Linked DNA regions of Homo sapiens: region 2 is reported to be linked to region 1. Evidence: microRNA targets listed by miRTarBase, many of them from high-throughput screens and not tested one by one. Region 1 holds a microRNA gene; the other region holds the end of a gene's coding sequence.
Evidence for each region. Region 1 holds the annotated microRNA hsa-miR-6786-3p (UGACGCCCCUUCUGAUUCUGCCU, at 1,345-1,367, shown strand). A microRNA usually pairs through its seed, bases 2 to 8, with sites in the 3' UTR of a target mRNA and lowers its output. Matches are read on the target gene's strand: a 7mer-m8 pairs with bases 2 to 8, a 7mer-A1 pairs with bases 2 to 7 and ends in A, and an 8mer does both.

Region 2: the mRNA of ARHGAP35 is a reported target of hsa-miR-6786-3p. Seed matches in the 3' UTR shown: 7mer-m8 at 1,331-1,337.

What each region holds. Positions count from the first base shown.
Region 1 is chr17:81,692,500-81,695,499 of GRCh38, forward strand. It overlaps MIR6786 (microRNA 6786), which reads left to right and starts at 1,258; the gene lies at 1,258-1,370. HGS (hepatocyte growth factor-regulated tyrosine kinase substrate) reads left to right here. Exons shown (of 22, transcript NM_004712.5): 9 at 1,004-1,082; 10 at 1,155-1,253; 11 at 1,371-1,466; 12 at 2,316-2,354; 13 at 2,425-2,568; 14 at 2,665-2,724. RefSeq lists a silencer at 177-362.
Region 2 is chr19:47,000,095-47,003,598 of GRCh38, reverse strand. It overlaps ARHGAP35 (Rho GTPase activating protein 35), which reads right to left. Exons shown (of 7, transcript NM_004491.5): 7 at 1-3,268. The coding sequence ends at 2,911. Among named protein-coding and RNA genes, the nearest start is that of NPAS1, 18 kb to the left of the region's middle. RefSeq lists enhancers at 1-392, 393-1,138.

The DNA.
Region 1 (3,000 bases):
GAACTTGCCTTGAGCCACGTCAAGTCCCGTCCGTCGCAGCCACTGCCCACAAGCGTGAGTCTGCTGTGAGCCAGCGGCTCCATGGCAGGGCATCCCAGCGCCATTCCTGCCTTCACACACACTTGCTGCCGTTTCCCTGTGCTGGGGGCTGTGCAGGTCTGCCTCGGTGTGGACTTTTCTCTTAGGAAAGAGCCCCAGGTCGGCCGAGCACGGTGGCTCATGCCTGTAATCCCAGCACTTTGGGAGGCTGAGGCGGGCAGATCACGAGGCCAAGAGATCAAGACAATCCTGGCCAACATGGTGAAATCCCGTCTCTACTTTTTAAGTATTTTATACTTAAAATTTTTGTATTTTATACAAAAATTAGCGGGCTTGGTGGCAGATGCCTGTAGTCCCAGCTACTCGGGAGGCTGAGGCAGGAAAATCACTTGAACCTGAGAGGCGGAGATTGCAGTGAGCCAAGATGGCGCCACTGCATTCCAGCCTGGGCGACAGAGCAAGACTCTATCTCAAATAAAAAAAAAAGAAAAGAGCCCCAGGTCAAAGGTCAGCGTGCGTGGTTGGAAATTGCGACCATGCTGTGAGCCTGCGGCCCTTGGACTGCCTGGGGCGCCCCGGAAGAGCTTACTGGGCATGACAGTCACTGACCTGTTTGCCCCTTCTTGGGTGGGGCCCGTCCCACAGTGGCGGTGCTGTGTTTGGTTTCCCGAGTGCCGTAGGAAGGTCTTCGCAGGCCGGGCTGGTGTCCTGAATGTCCATTTTCAGGAGAGGAACTGGGGCTTACCCTGAGGGACTCACCCGAGCCCTTGTGGCTGGTGTGATGCCCTCGAGTCCTGCCCTGCTCTGCTCTGGAGTGTGGCCATTCGGACACCTGTGGCTGTGGAACCACTGTCCTCACTCTGTGGGGACACTTAGAGGAGCCCGCAGAGGTGTGGTTGAGAGCTTTGGCGGGGGCAGGGCGGTGTCAGCGCATGGTGACCTGCAGCATTCCTTGTGCCCACAGGAAAGCGGAGGGAAAGGCCACTTCCACCACTGAGCTGCCCCCCGAGTACCTGACCAGCCCCCTGTCTCAGCAGTCCCAGGTACTCAGCCCCCTCCGTCCCGTGGGCACCTCTTCCCCGGCGCCCCCCCTCACCCTCCCCGCTTGTCCTCAGCTGCCCCCCAAGAGGGACGAGACGGCCCTGCAGGAGGAGGAGGAGCTGCAGCTGGCCCTGGCGCTGTCACAGTCAGAGGCGGAGGAGAAGGAGAGGCTGGTAAGCCGGGTGGGGCGGGGCGGCCTCAGGAGGGGCCCAGCTCCCCTGGATGTGCTGCGGTGGGGCCGGAGGGGCGTCACGTGCACCCAAGTGACGCCCCTTCTGATTCTGCCTCAGAGACAGAAGTCCACGTACACTTCGTACCCCAAGGCGGAGCCCATGCCCTCGGCCTCCTCAGCGCCCCCCGCCAGCAGCCTGTACTCTTCACCTGTGGTGAGCGGCCCTTGGGCTGGAGCTCCCTCTCCTGGAAGGCAGTAGGGTTGATGGGGGACGCGGGTCCCTGAGCTGATTTAGTCAGGTTGGTGGGGGATGCGGGTCCCCGGGCTTCCCAGAGAGGACAGCCCCAGCACACGGGCGGACATCAGGGCAGAGCCCCACGGCTCCAGGCACCCGTTGCTCCTGGTCCCTGGTTCGGCCCTTGGGACTGAGGACATGGGACAGGCTGTGGGGGAGGCGCCTTGCTGGTGAGACCCCGTCTCTTCCACACCCCTCCCGCCCCACAGGAACTGAAGGACTTGCTTTCTGGGGCATCCACGTCACCTCTCCCTGGCCTCAGCCCCGCTCTCAGTAGAGGGTGAAGAGGCAGCCTGTTTTGCAGGGGGTTGGGTCGGGGACAGCAGGTTGAGAAAGTCATTTTGTAGGTTCCGTGGAGTGGCCAGGCCGCTGCAGGCCCAGGGGTGCAGAACAGCCCTGCCCCAGTGAGCCACCCCTTCCCTTCTTCCCTTCCTTCCGGGCTGTCGGCTGGGGCCCCACACGCTGGACCGTGGGGGCTGTCCAGTGTCCACCTTGAGGCCCCAGGGCTGGCCCAGTGCCACCCTGTTCCTCCCATAGCAAGGTTAGGAGCCTTGTAGGACGGCAGTGCTGTCAGCCTCTGTGGAGTTCTAAGCATCTGGAAGAGGAGAAAAGATGGCTGCTCAGATGCCAGGAACCAGAGGAGGGCACGGAGGGAGGGCCCAGGCTGCGGCTCTGGTCTCCAGGATCTGTCGCACTGGGGACATCCCTGTCCCTGCCGAAGCAACTGGCTCTGTCACCTGTGAGACTCAGATGCCCTTTTCTCCCCAGAACTCGTCGGCGCCTCTGGCTGAGGACATCGACCCTGAGGTAAGGCCCAGCATGGGGTGCATCCTCTCACGGTTTCTGGCCTTGGGAGTGACCCCCTCATTGCCTGCAGCTCGCACGGTATCTCAACCGGAACTACTGGGAGAAGAAGCAGGAGGAGGCTCGCAAGAGCCCCACGCCATCTGCGCCCGTGCCCCTGACGGAGCCGGCTGCACAGCCTGGGGAAGGGCACGCAGCCCCCACCAACGTGGTGGAGGTGAGGGGGCCACTCCCGGCATTCCTAGTGGCAGGGTCCCTTGGAAGGGGTGGATGCGGGACAGGTTGGAGGCCCCACTCATTCTCTCTCTTCCAGAACCCCCTCCCGGAGACAGACTCTCAGCCCATTCCTCCCTCTGGTGGCCCCTTTAGTGAGGTAAGCTGTGGCTCCCTCCACGGGCCAGGGCAAAACATGGCCTCCTGGCCCACAGCGCCAGGCACATGGCACAGGTGCCTGCCCTAACCAGAGGGCCGTGCTAGAGCAAGGGTGTCTGCCCCAGCCCAGCCCTGGCCTGCCCTGCCCTGCCCTTTGTGGCCTCTCCCAATGGAAACTCTACACCAGGCTGTGGTCCAGAGCTCGGGCCACTCTCTGTGGACCTAACATGGACCTGAATATTCCAGAGCAGCCTAGAACCATCAGATGAGTCCTTGG
Region 2 (3,504 bases), not on the chromosome of region 1:
AAGACGGGGACAATGCAGAGTAAATGTGTGCCGTGACACCCAGTATGCGACACAAGCCAAGAATTCTAAGTGGATTCACGAGCCACGCCACCCAGCCTTGGGTCTTCCCTCTTCAGCCGTCAGAGCCAGGATCAGTCTCTGGCTTTGCACCAAGGGCTGCTGTCCCCTCACACGGTGTCTGCGCTCTCGCTGGGCAGGGGTGGCTGCCCCACGTCCCCATTCTGGACAAGCCAACGCCCTCCCACCCAGTGCTGAGAGCTGCATGCGAGTCCCATGAGCACCCTCTGTGCACACACCTTCCAGAACTTAGAGCCCCAACAAAAGCGGGAGTGGGGGCAGCATGGTCCCAACAATCCCCAGGGACGCTCCTCTGTGGCTCCCATGCAAGTGCCCATTTGGGCTGCACGCTTCCCTGACCGGACGCTGAAGGCCGGCCTGCCACGACTGGCCATGCCCCTCAAACGACCGAGATGTCCTCTAGTCCCTCAGCCCGGAGCAGCAGATGAGAGGCTGAAGTTAGCGGGGGAAACAAGAGGAACCCTGTGGCTTCCTGTGCATGGGGGCTCCCTTTGGACATAAGCTGCCACAGTCCCTGCCTGCCCACCTTGGCTGACAAGGCGCTGCATTGGGAGTGCCCCAGACCTAGTTTCAGGTACTTCTGTGAGGAGAGGGGTAGAGAGCCCAGGTGCTCCTCCTCACCACCCCCTCCACACTCCTGGGGAAGTCACTGGCCGCACATACATCTGTGGAATCGGGCCAGGTGGCTTGGGACGTGGCTTTTGTGCTCACACAAAAGAGGTGGCAGTGTTAGCTCAAGCAGTGAGGGGGACTGGGCTGCTTTTGCCTGCGTTCACACAGGGACGGCCCAGGGCACCACCATGCTTTCCCTCCACCCCCAATTACGTGAGGAGCTGACCAGGTGAGCATAACCTCGAAAAGGGGGCGGGGTCAGTAAATGGGGCCGTTTCCTCATCTGCTGGGGTCCAGGGCTGGGGGAGTTTGGGAACGTTTCTGCCAACCTCAGCTAAAACGAAACACAGATGTCACCTTCCAGCCAACCCTGGGCCTACAGGGCCAGGCACAGCTCCACCAGAAGAGACAAAAATTCATCATCCAACATTCACAGAAAACACGCCTGAACCCTGGGTTTGTTCTCCGATTTGTGTTCCTCAAAAGGCGGTAAAACTTGCAAGGTTAGGTGTTTCCAAGCACCTTCGTTGGCCATTGAGAACTGGAGACAGTGAGCCAGCCGTCCCCAGAGGGAGCTCGGGAGCCGAAGGGCCACTCCCGTCTCCAACCACTGCAGGCGGGCACGGGCAGGGCAGCTGCAGACGCCCGGGAAAGGTGTCCATCAGGCCCCCTGGAATACACCACAGATCCTATTTCTTAAAGTGCAACGAGCCCCAAGGGCTGTCTGGCATGGGGCCCTCTGCACCCCACTAGCTCTCGCCTGGGGGGTGCCTAGTGTCAGGCTTCCTGGCCGCAGAGGCCACAGCCCAGCCATGCAAGTTTGAGGTGCTGGGGGGCAGAGGTGGCCAGGAGAAGAGCTTTTCCTGGGGCAGTGGGAAGGCTGGGCTAGGGTGGTGGTGGATGATATGCAGGCACAGCGCCTCTGGGTCAGCGAAGACCAGGAAGGATGCCCCTTCGAGGGCACCAGCAGACCGCCATTCCTTCAAAGTGCCCCACCTCGCCCACATCCCCATGAACACTCCTGCTGGTGGCCTCCATGGCTGGGATGAAACGATTCCACTTCAACACCCAACACACCAACCCCAACCCCAAGTGCACCTGGCACCTTCCAGCTGTCCCCAACCCCCCACCAAGCGCCCACACACACTCACACTCACATGTGCACACACACCCCCACCCCACGCACATGCTCAATTAGTGTTTCTATCGTAATGGACTGTGTTCTGGGGCAGCCCAGGTTCCAGCCTGCACTGCCATCTCCCCAGCTGTCCCCACCAAGGGCTCGAACCCTCTTCTTGGGAAAACGGGGGATCTAGCGACTAGACCTAAGTGGGTGAGTGGGACCCCAGCAGGCCCTCAGGCCACAGCTCCAGGCATCCTGGTTTTGCTGCCACAAAGACGAGGGTCAGCTCCACCTGTGTGCCTCCCTCCCTCCCGGCAGAGGCGGGCACAGAGTGGAATCTTGAGGTCTGTAGTTTTCTTTCTGTGGTTTCTTCCTTTTTAATTACTGGAAGGGTTTTTCCATTTTTTCTCCTAGTGTTCCTTTGTTTGCCAGGGAATGTTTCGGGAAGGCTGTGGAGTGGGACGGTGGGGATGAAGCGGGGAGTCCCACACTCTCTGGGTCCAGGCACAAAGCTATCCTCCGTTGTTCTGATCTGCAGAGCCAGCGCCCTCAGCAGGTACCTAGTGGTGGCAGAGCCGTGGCCTACACGTTCCCAAGGAGGCCGCCAGCCGGGCTGTACCCTTACCTTGGGGGTGTGTGCAGATGGAAGGTGGGAAGAGACAGACCAACAGGAAGTGTTCTCTTCAGGGGTTGCCAGCCCCACCCTGAATCTCAGAGCATCCTCCTCCCCGGCAAAGGCCAGGGCACTGTCCCGACCATGGGCTCTGTACAAGCAGAGGGAGGCACCCGGAGGCTGGTGTGAGCAGCTACGTGGGGTGGTGGTCCAGGGAACAGAGGGAGGGCACTGGAGCCATTGCCTGCCTAGTTCAGTCCTCAAATGGGTCCAAGCCAGCTCAGGTCTGCAGCGCCAGGCCCAGGGTACCTGGCAGCCCAGCCGATGGTACCATTGGCTGGTGCTCCCACTGAGGTCTTGAGAAGGTAATGGGGAGAGCCACTTGCCCCTGCCTCTGTCCCCAGTGGACTTGGTTTTGTTCAAGGCCAAATGCCACCCCGTCAGAGAGAGGACCGGTTCTCCTGTCGCCCCAGGTCTTGGTGGCTCACAGCGTGTGTTCGGCTTGAAGCTGGGAGGGAAGCAGTGGCTGCATTGGGGACTGGGGGGTGGGTGGAGGCGACTGTGGGGGCGACGGCTGACTTGTGACAGGCGTGGAAGTGAGGAAGGGGACGGTGGAAGCCACGGCAGAGGGGGAGCTGGGCCTGGCGCCGGGGGGCTCGGTGATGGGCCGATTGTAGAAGAAGAAGGGGCACTGCTGGATAAAGAGTTCAATGATTGTCTGGTAGGTGCGCGTGGCTGTGAGGGCGTCCATAGTGCTGAAATCAGGTCTCATCAAGGTGGGCCAGAAGCAGATGGAGAGGTTCTCGCTGGTCATGAGATTCACCTTGTTGTTGTGGCTGACCCTGCGGGCGACACCAAACTCAATGGTCAGAACTGTGCAGGGCCCCACCTGGCCCTGGGCGCTCATGGTCTTCAGCACCCAGGCTGAGCCCACCTTTCTTCCCTCAGGTGGAGCAGAAAAGGCCATGCGCAGCTCTCTGTACCCTGCCCTGCCTGGGAGGCTGCGCCCTCAGTGTCCTCTCCCCTCCAGCCCAGTGCCTCTACATGGCCAACCTCGGAAAGGCTGCCTGGAGCCCCG